Regions from separate parts of the Homo sapiens genome. Here region 2 is linked to region 1. A link means that fine-mapping ties the variant in region 1 to the expression of a gene that starts in the linked region. Tissue or cell type: whole blood. Region 1 holds a variant in brackets; the other region holds the start of a gene. All regions are shown on one strand. Distances are from middle to middle.

Region 1 (5,408 bases):
CTGCTTTTAAAAGAAATCTGGAGAGATACACTATTCACTGCCTGCCTTAATTTATTCTACAGTGGTTTTCATATTATTATTATTTTTTTTTTTTGAGAGGGAGTCTCGCTCTGTCACCCAGGCTGGAGTGCAGTGGCATGATCTCGGCTCACTGCAAGCTCTGCCTCCTGGGTTCATGCCATTCTCCTGCCTCAGCCTCCCGAGTAGCTGGGACTACAGGCACCCGCCACCACCACTGGCTAATTTTTTGTATTTTTAGTAGAGACGAGGTTTCACCGTGTTAGCCAGGATGGTCTCGATCTCCTGACCTTGTAATCTGCCCGCCTTGGCCTCCCAAAGCGCTGGGATTACAGGCGTGAGCCACTGCGCCCGGCCAATATTTCTAATATAATAACATGTTTCAGTATTTTTATTTGAATTTAAAAATGAAGCCAGGCCTTTTATTAGAAAGCAAGCGTAATGCGACTGTTCTGGCTGCAGCACCGGCCCTGCTGCTGGGGCTTCGTGGGCAGGCAGTTCCCCCTCACTTGAATAAACTCAACCTGCAGCTGCAAAGTTGTGATGACACATGAGCATCTTATTTTAAAAAAGTTTTTAATTGACAAGAATAGATGCTGACCATGTCTAATTCTAGCAAGAAGTAATATTTAGACACAAATACATGAACTAACTGGGGAAGAAAACCACCAGTCAGTCCCACTCCTCTTGAAAAGCATTTTTAATATAATTTTGCTTTTAATATCATAATTATCTATCAAAGTTTCTGATATATTTTGTTTTGATTTGTTTTGCATTACTAATAATTGCAGTTGTAACAGTTCAAACCAAAAATGTTAATGCCTAGAAGTTAAATAAAAGTTAAGTTTATGTACATATTTTTATATGCTAGGGTGATAAAAGACTTGAAAGCATAGAAATGCATTCAGGTAAAATTCTGGAGGTAAGTGGGATAGTATACAAGCTCACGGAGGATATAGGCACGCTTCATTTTTTGCAGTTGACTTTTTTTTTGCTTTTTACAAATTGAAGGTTTGTGGCAAACCTGTATCCAGCAAGTCTGTTGGCACCATTTTTCCAACAGCATGTTCTCACTTCATGTCTATGTCGGTATTTGTTAGCAATAAAGTATTTTTAAATTAAGGTATGCATTGTTTTAGACATAATGTTATTGCAGACTTAATAGACTGCAGTACTAGGAACTGATGTGAAGTTTCCTCAAGGAGGGGTGAGTAAGTTTTGTGCCCCAGGCACCTCTCTTGCCCCAGACCCAGCCCTGCTCTTCTGTCTGAAGCAAGTAGAGCAATTAGAAAAAGAGAAACCAGGCGTGGAGAACAGTCAGAGATGATCCAGAGCGAGGGTTGCTGGGTTTTCTGGAACACTGATGGATGAACAGAAAGGAAGTATTTTGTAATGGAAGTGCATCTCCCTGCAGTGAGGGGGAACTGAATCTGTGTTACCCAGAAACCTCCTGGTTAGCATTTGCACTTCAAAGAAAAAGAGCCCTGAGGCACCCAGAAAAGACAGCAGGCTGTGCCTAAGTACAGAGGACCCAAGGTTTGTGCACCCAGTTGGCTTGCCTGCTGAGTGTGAAGCTCTCCGGGACCCAGGGCACTGCGGAAGACAGGAAGGGATCTGGAGTGAGGTGAGCAGGTCAGGGAGACAGCATATGCAGGGCAAGTCAGCTCTCACCCCATGGGCTGCTCAGAACCTTCCTGTCAAACAGCCTCGTAAAAACAGCCTGCCTTGGGCAGCAGGGTCACCCAATTGAATACTTTTATTAGGAATAACTTATATGATAGTCATTGTACAGTTGTTTTTTTGAAGCCGTTCATAGCTGGATCCCACACATCCAGGCAGGGATGTGTGGGCAGAGCAGTGACAGTGCCTAAACTCCTTGGCACTCGCCAGTCACTGTTCTAAGTTTTGATCACATATTTCCTATGAAATCCTCTCCAAAACCTTCCGAGGTTGGGACTAGCATTCCCATTTTACAGGTAGATAATGCTGAGGCCCAGAGCTTGAGTTCCTTTTCCAGATCCCTGGAGCAGAGTGGGTGGCGGGTCAGGGTGAGCCTAGCCGGGGTCTCTGCAGTGCACGCTCTAGGCTACCTTTGGGCCCTTTTGAAGCAGCTCTTGGGTTTGTTATGGGTGTTAAGATTTTTTCTTTTTTCTTTGTGCTTTACTTCATTTCTTAAGAAGCACATATTTGTAAAACCCATGGAGTAGTGACTTGGAAAGGAGCTGGACAGAGGCAGCAGTCCACCCACAGGTGGGGTATGGAGACCGCCCGCTTCCTTCCTATTCCATGATGCTGTGGCTCTGGGCTGTTGGCTGTCCTCAGTTGCGCTTGGGATTCCTGCCAGCCAGCAGCTGCTGGAGTTAGAGGATTCTGCTCTCCAAGAATTTGCAGCTTGTGTCTGATTACCGTACCGTCTGGCAAAAAAATACGTATGATGTTTTTACATTTTTAAAATCAAAATCCTGATGTTTTTTTGTTCGTATGGTTGTTTGTTTCAACCTCTTAACTCTTGATTTTTTCTGTTAAGTGATTTTACGTCTCTTAGCTGTGCAGAATGACAATTAATGGGAAGGCTGTCTTCCCCATAGTGAGACCTTGGTAAGGGCAGACCTGACTGGTAGATTGTAGATTGGGTGTGCTCGTTTTTATATTTCATTTTAGGAGCCTCACAGTCTACTCAGAGAAAAATAAAAGAAGGCAAAATGAGTCCTCCCCATTTCCATGCAAGCCAGAACAGTTGGTTGTGTGGGAGCCTCGTGGTGCCCAGCGGAGGACGGCCAGGACCAGCTCCAGCAGCTGGGGTGCAGTGCGGGGCGCAGGGCGTCCAGGTCCAGCTGGTGCAGGTGAGAGCTGGCCAGTCACACAGGCCAGCTGTAGGCGGGGTGGGAGGGTCACGCAGGTCTGAGCAGTGTGCGGCATGCTGCATCCCCTGCCCATCGCAGCACCCCCTGCCTGCCTGCCCCTCGTGCATCCTCCCCTGTAGACTGCCCCAAGTCCTGTCTCCTCACAGCCCAGCTCCTCCCTTTTTCCCAGCCTGTCCTGCATCTGCTCAAGCTCTGAGTGTTGCTGGGACCGTGCATCCACTTCCTGAACCTGTCTGTGCACAGCCCTGCGTCTAGCCCCAGAGTAGCCCGCCTCCCTGCCCGAGGCCCCCAGGGCTGTTTTGCAGCAGGATGAGATCTGTTTGAGGC[CA/A]CCCTGCCCTTCTTCTGCAGGGCTGGGGCAAAAGGGCTCCGCAGGCCGTCTCAGCCACCCCATTTCTAGGGCGGCCTGCTTGTGGCGCACTAGCAGCCTTTCTATGCTGAAGGTGGTGGGGGTCTTTTCAGTGTTTTTCTATTTTCTTTCCTACGAAACAGAGCCCCTCCAGGGCAGGCCCAGGCCCCTCCCAGCCTGTCCGGGCCACAGATACCTGCAGCTGTGGCCAGTTTCCAGGAGGTCTTTGAGCACACCTGCTTCAGCAGCCCTGAGCACACCTGCATCTTCAGTCTCAGTTTGAGGGGCTGGAATGGGGAGGGAAGATGATTTGGAAGGATTTGGGGAGAGAAGAGATATACAAGCCGGGGCTGTCTGGGTTTGGCCCAGGTGTGTGCCCCTCTTCACCACTCCACTTTGTAGATTCCCTGTGGCAGGGGATGCGGTTGCAGGCCCCACGGAAGTGCGGAGGGTGGAGGTGACGCTGGCTCTGAGTTGGGAAACAGGCACGTTTGTGGGTTCAGAGTCCTGGGAGAGTCTCGCCAAGGAAACAGGACCAGGCCTGGGGCTCAGAGAGGCAAGAGGAGGGGCAGCCTGGGCAGAGGTGGGCTGGGAAGGGGGCAGGGAAGAGGCTGCGGGCAGCTGGGGGTGGCCCTGTGCTGGTTGGAAGCTAGCGGTGAGCGTCAGATGGGGGCTGAAGCTTGTCTTAGAGAGGGGCAGGAGCACTGGTCCTTTGTTTCCAGCTTCTGAAGAGGTAAGAACTCCCCAGGAGCAGGGGCAGGGGGAGGGGGAGGACCATCCAAGGAAACACTGCCTCAGCTGGCAGGGCAGAGGTACAGAGTCAGGACCAGAGGCTTGGCAATAGGGAGACGGTAGGGAAGCTGGTGCCACCGGCAGAACAGGAGCAAGTAGGGGGTATACTTTTAAGAGATGCCTGATTAAACCTGGGTTTGAGTTCTTTTTCTGTCCCTTACCAGCTAGCGTAGTCTTGGTTACTTAAGCACTCCGGGCCTCAGTTTTGTCATCTATGAAATGGGAACAGTAGTGCAGACCTTGACACACAGGAGCTTCTCAAACAGAAGGAATGAGAGGTGCAGAGCAGCAGCACCAGGAGCTCCGCTTCGGGGTGTGAATGGCCATGGGCGGACATGCAGGTGCAGGACAGGCGAAGTGTGGGACAGATGAAGTTTCTAGCCTGGACTGTGAGGGGCCTGGCAGCCTCCCCTCTCAGGAGCCCCTCTACCTGCCCTGGTCCTTCCAGCTGGCCCGTAGGCAAGCTGGGGCATGCAGGGAAGGCCCTCTGTGGGGCCCGAGGATTTGCTGGAGAGCACTCTGGGTACACAAGGTTGGTGGGGGTACAGGGCGTGCCAGGGCACCTGCAAGGAGTTGAGGAGCGTGCCTTAGGAGGGAAATCAGTATTTGGGCTGACTGAGGGGAGGAGCTGGAGAGCAGAAGGTTCCAGGCCCAGCAAAAGCTGCTGGGATCAAGGTGACAGAATGAGAACCAGGTGGGAACAGGTAGTACCCAGCCCCCATAAACAATTCCTGCTGGGTCCTCGGGCCTCCCTTGGAATACAGGGGGTGGGCTGGTTCTGCCACGCATTGCAGCTGGAGGAGACTTCTCAGGTGAGACGAGGACCTTTGCTGCACTCTCACAGACATGTGACAGGCCTTTCTGTGTTGCCTTCCCAGGATGACCCCTCCGGCGAAGGTGTCCTGCCCTCGGCCCGCGGCCCAGCCACCTTCCTCCCCTTCCTCACTGTGGACCTGCCCGTCTACGTCCTCCAGGTCTGGATGCCTTACTGCCCTTTGTTTTTCTTATTGAGACTCGCAGAGCCTTCGACTTCCAGAAGCCTGGCTTCACAGCTGCAGGCTGGTCACTGAGGCCGCGTGGCTTGGGAGGCTCAGTGGGTTGGTTGCCAGGATGTCTTGCTGCCTTCTGGAGAAGGTGGGTGAGTGGAGCTCAGATCTGCAGGACGCTGCAGCTCCTGCTGGTAGACAAAGCAGGAGAAGTTAATATGCTCTTGAAAGTGTTGTGCCTAGGAATTCCAGTTAATTCTCTGGGAAGAGGGCTGGCCAGGGCCCAGCCTGTGGGAGAATAGACTCGGATGAATTCAGTAGTTTGCTTACGTGGTTAAGCTAAGGATGGGTGGCAGTGAATGATTCAGAGTTTGATATGAAATAGCGAAAGCGTATAGCTTA
Region 2 (5,408 bases), 34 kb before region 1:
GCAGAAGGCTGAAACAACCTAGTATCTGAAACAACCTAGTATCAGATTTGAGCTTTGGTTGGGTGGGGGAGTCTTAGGAAGCGGGGATTTGCTCTGGATTGGCTCTTACCAGAAATCGGGTCAACACCATGACTAGGTTTCTGACTAAATCCTATATACAGAGAGGGAAGCACACAGACAGACAGGCTGTCAGGGGTACAAAAGCGGCGGCTGCTCACGTTAGCTGAGAGAGGGGCTGCTGGGTATCTTGTAAATGGCACAGCAAGTGACCTCGCTTTATCTGGGTGGAGACACATCATGAAGTGGCCTTGCTTTGTCTCATGTCATTGTGTTTCAGTGACCTTGGCCTAGGTTGGTTTTCTGCGTGATGGTTCAAGTCTTACAGAACAGAGTGGCCCAGCTGTAGCACCCGGCCAGTTTCTGGATGGCAGGGGCTGCCCTTTTTCTTTCTCAGTCCCCTTCATTTTACACATGAGGAAACTGAGGCACAGAGAAGTTGTGATAGTTTAAAAATGGCTGCAAATTCTTTCCAGCACCTCCCATTGAGAGGTGGAGTACAAGTTCCCCTTGCCTGGGTCTGCAGTGTCTTATGACTTCTTTGATCACGAGAATGTGGCATAATCAATGCTGCGCAACAAGTTGGGCATGGTGGCATATGCCTGTAGTCCAGTTAATTGGGAGGCTGACCCGGAAGGACTGCTTGAGGCCAGTTGGAGGTCGCACTATGATTGCACCTGTGAATAGCCACCACACTCCAGCCTCAGCAACACAGGGATGGACTTGCTGGGTCATGTGGAGATTATGTTTAGCTTTCTGCAGAACTGCCAAACTGTTTTCCACACCGCAACGTTATACATTCCCACCAGCCATATGTGAGAGTTCCAATTTTTCTATATCCTGTTTTTAAAAAAATTACCACTATTTGAGTAGGTGTGAAGTTGTATCTCACTGTGTTTTGATTTGCATTTCCCTAATGATTCGTGATGTTGAGCCTCTTTTTATTTGCTTATTGGCTGTTTGTATTATCTTCTTTGGAGAAATATGTCTATTCAAACCTTTGCCTTTTAAAAAAGTGGACTGTTTGTCTTCTTGCTAAGAGTTCTTTATATATTCCAGATAGTAGATCCTTATCAGATATTCGATTTGCACACCCTTCTCCCATTCTGAGTTGTCTTTTCACTGTCTTATTGGTGTCCTTTTACCTGAGTAAGTTTTTAATTTTGATGAAGTCCAAGTTATCTATTTTTCTTTCTTGTGCTTTCAATATTATATCTAAGAAACTATTCCCTAATCCAGGGTCACATAGATTTACACCTACTTTTCTTCAAATAGTTTTATGTCTTACGTGTAGGCTTTTGCTCTAATTTGAGTTAATTTTTGCCTCTGATGAGAGATACACGTCCAAATTGGTTCTTTTGCATGTGGAGATCCAGTTGTCCCAGTGCCGCCATTATTGAAATGACTATTCTTTCCTCTACTGAATGGTCTAGGAACAATATGTTTTCGGCATAAACTGATATATATAATAGATGTATCCTATTCTTTTTAATATTATAATTTGTGTTACTTAAAAAAATACTCTTAATAATAAAGCATTCATGTATTTAACAAATATGCACCAAGAGTCTTCCTGGGCACACACAGTGAATAGGACACAGTTCCTGGGCTCCAGGAGCCTACATTCCAGAGAGGGAGAGACAGTGAAGGAGCAGGGAAGGAACTCAACAAAACAACGGGTGATGAGAGCTCTAAGAGCAAACAGATCAGACAGAGGTGGGAATACGGGACTGGGTAAGCATGTGCTTTGGATCAGAAGGGGCGCAGAGTCCTCCCAGAGGAATCAGAGATCAGCTGCGCCAAGTCTCTGAGGCTGGAACCAGCTTGGCTTGCTGGATGAACTGGGAAAAAGAGGTGGGGTGCGGGGGAGGGGTGGGGGGGGCAGCGGGAGAGTGGCGGGAAGTGAGGGCAAACAGGTAGGGGAGGGTAGACTAGCAAGGCCATAGGCGCCTTCGGGAGCAAGGTGGAGGTGAGCATAATTTGATGTGCAATTTTTAGATCATAAAACGGTGCCCCGTGGATGGGAGCGAGTGGAGCGGAGGGAGACCGATGACCAGCTAGTAGTTATTTTTCAGGTACCCAGGAATAAAGTGCGGGTTTGGATCTGAGTGGTGGTGAAGTTGAAGTGGAGGAGTCCAGATTGAATGCGGAGGTGTACGGTGAGGTGGGGGAGGGTGAGGACCGGAAACAGTAAGTAATTAAGCTGTTGCAGAGTGAGGTTGTGCCAAGTTTAGTAGGAAATACAGTTGGAAATACAGGCAGGGGTCCTGCGTATCAGGGAGGCCCCGTGTGCCGAGCAAGGACCTGGGCCAAAGCAAACGAGGTCTGTGCGCCAGCGGCGGCAGGCGAGCTTGCACTTAAGTGAGCTGGGGGTAGGCGTCCGGCCTGTTGGACAGGTTCGAATCCTGGATCTGCCGGCTGCCGAGTGACTCGAGCTCGCCGTCCCTGTTTCCTCACCCCTGGGTGACCGCGCACGCTTAATCAGCTCGGACAGGTACAGCCCCTGGGACGCAGTCAATGCCTACGAGAGGTTGCCTGTTAAGTGTCTGAAATATTAATACGATTCGAAGTCAAGACAAGCCTCGTCTTCCACGCCAGCGGGAACGAGAAGGAATCGCTCAGCGTTGGGAGCCTCACCCCGTCCCCTGTCGGTCCCGTGCCCCGCCGCTCGCCCTCGTAGGTGCCGGCGCTCCGCCCCCCGACCCCGCGCCCCGCCCCCCGACCCCGCGCCCCGCCCCCCGACCCCGCGCCCCGCCCCCCGACCCCGCGCCCCGCCCCCCGACCCCGCGCCCCGCCCCCCGACCCCGCGCCCCGCCCTAGTCGGTCCCGGCGCCCCGCCCCCGCCTCCGCCTCCGGCGCCCCGCAGCCCAGCCTCACGTCACGTCAGCCCAGCAGGCCTCGCGCATCGCCCGGCGGCGTCCGCGCACGCGCGGTTCCGAGCCGGACTCTACGCCGGGGCTTGGCGCGGATCGCGTCCCGGGGCGGCGCACGCACACCTGGGCGGGGCGCGGGCAGCTCTGCGTCCGAAGCTGCTCCGACGCCGTCGCTGGGACCAAGATGGACCTCCCGGCGCTGCTCCCCGCCCCGACTGCGCGCGGAGGGCAACATGGCGGCGGCCCCGGCCCGCTCCGCCGAGCCCCAGCGCCGCTCGGCGCGAGCCCCGCGCGCCGCCGCCTGCTACTGGTGCGGGGCCCTGAAGATGGCGGGCCCGGGGCGCGGCCCGGGGAGGCCTCCGGGCCAAGCCCGCCGCCCGCCGAGGACGACAGCGACGGCGACTCTTTCTTGGTGCTGCTGGAAGTGCCGCACGGCGGCGCTGCCGCCGAGGCTGCCGGATCACAGGAGGCCGAGCCTGGCTCCCGTGTCAACCTGGCGAGCCGCCCCGAGCAGGGCCCCAGCGGCCCGGCCGCCCCCCCCGGCCCTGGCGTAGCCCCGGCGGGCGCCGTCACCATCAGCAGCCAGGACCTGCTGGTGCGTCTCGACCGCGGCGTCCTCGCGCTGTCTGCGCCGCCCGGCCCCGCAACCGCGGGCGCCGCCGCTCCCCGCCGCGCGCCCCAGGCCTCCGGCCCCAGCACGCCCGGCTACCGCTGCCCCGAGCCGCAGTGCGCGCTGGCCTTCGCCAAGAAGCACCAGCTCAAGGTGCACCTGCTCACGCACGGCGGCGGTCAGGGCCGGCGGCCCTTCAAGTGCCCACTGGAGGGCTGTGGTTGGGCCTTCACAACGTCCTACAAGCTCAAGCGGCACCTGCAGTCGCACGACAAGCTGCGGCCCTTCGGCTGTCCAGTGGGCGGCTGTGGCAAGAAGTTCACTACGGTCTATAACCTCAAGGCGCACATGAAGGGCCACGAGCAGGAGAGCCTGTTCAAGTGCGAGGTGTGCGCCGAGCGCTTCCCCACGCACGCCAAGCTCAGCTCCCACCAGCGCAGCCACTTCGAGCCCGAGCGCCCTTACAAGTGTGACTTTCCCGGTAACCGCGCTCTCGGGGGCGGGCGGGCTGCGCGGTGTTGCAGGCAGGTCTGGGGTGCCACGTCCGCCCCACAGAGGGGCCTGCCAGACCTTAGCAAGCCGGGGACGCAGGCTCTTCGGGATTTGTATTCTAGCTCCTTCCATGTCATTCGATTTGAGATCTTGGCCCTGCCCTGCCGCAGGGATTCCGATGGCAGGTAGCGCAGATCACCACAGCTGCGCTTCCCAAAGGTGGCGGCAACAGATATCCTTAACCTGCTTGTGCTTGATGAAAGCGGCACGCATCTTCACAGAGTGGCACGGAGCTATGTGTCAGGTCTTTATTTTCCTCAGTCTCGTCATTTGTTTACGGGGTGCACACTCCGTGCTAGAGGAGCAGAGATGAATGTGGCCAGATTCAGGACCTTAACACGCTGGGAGGATAGCCACAGGTGTGCGCACATCCTGGCTTTTTTTGCCTTTTGCACTTTGATTTCCGTTGAACCTCACAGTTTTGTGAAGTTTTAAAAATTAGCCGTCTGTGAAGGTTAAAAACTGTCCTCTTTTACAGATGAAGAGACAGAGGCCGAGCCTTGTGGATAAAGTCCACTGCTGGTGGCTGGGCGCGGTGGCTCACGCCTGTAATCCCAGCACTTTGGGAGGCCGAGGCGGGCGGATTACGAGGTCAGGAGATCGAGACCATCCTGGCTAACACGGTGAAACCCCGTCTCTATTAAAACTACAAAAAATTAGCCGGGCGTGGTAGCGGGCGCCTGTAGTCCCAGCTACTCGGGAGGCTGAGGCAGGAGAATGGTGTGAACCCCAGAGACGGAGCTTGCAGTGAGCCGAGATCGCGCCACTGCATTCCAGCCGGGGCGACAGAGCGAGACACCGTCTCAAAAAAAAAAAAAAAAAAAAGTCCACTGCCTGTTCTTTCTCCTGTGTGTTGACCTGCAGTTGTTGGGAATGTAGGACTCCAACACAGTGAGCTCTTCACCAGGATGGGCAGCTTTCCCTGCTTTCACAGGGATAGGGTTCCTCCAGAAGGGCAAGAAAGGATTCCTCCCTGGAAAGGCAGAAGAATGGAGTCGGCTGGGTGGCAGAGCCCAGGTGGGGATTGTGGTCTGTGGTGAGGGCCCAGGAGGAAGGACCAGTCATTCAAACAGAAACTGGAATGTGTGCCTAGCATGCCCCTAACCTGTATATGCACACGGCTCTCCTTATAATGTCCTTAAACAAGAATTTTTAAAGGATGAGATGAGAATTATGAACGGGTTTTATTATTTTTTCCCTCGCATATGCCTGTGGACTGTCTTGCGCATTCCTCTTCAGAGAGAATGTGGCTTGAGGCCACTAGCTCAAAGTCTTTTTCAGTCATACACTCTTGGGAATCTGATGGTGGCTGTAGA

The links. PIP is the estimated chance that this variant, and not a neighbour inherited with it, causes the effect.
Region 2: it holds the start of ZXDC, and the variant in region 1 is fine-mapped to the expression of ZXDC in whole blood (TOPMed, PIP above 0.99).

The regions. Positions count from the first base shown.
Region 1 is chr3:126,439,218-126,444,625 of GRCh38, reverse strand. ZXDC (ZXD family zinc finger C) reads left to right here. Exons shown (of 10, transcript NM_025112.5): 8 at 2,680-2,861; 9 at 4,899-4,994. Among named protein-coding and RNA genes, the nearest start is that of ZXDC, 34 kb to the left of the region's middle. RefSeq lists an enhancer at 2,748-3,383. The variant CA/A (reference allele first, on the strand shown) is at 3,210.
Region 2 is chr3:126,473,572-126,478,979 of GRCh38, reverse strand. It overlaps ZXDC (ZXD family zinc finger C), which reads left to right and starts at 3,089. Exons shown (of 10, transcript NM_025112.5): 1 at 3,089-4,021. The coding sequence starts at 3,115. RefSeq lists silencers at 2,820-3,329, 3,400-3,659 and an enhancer at 4,217-4,742.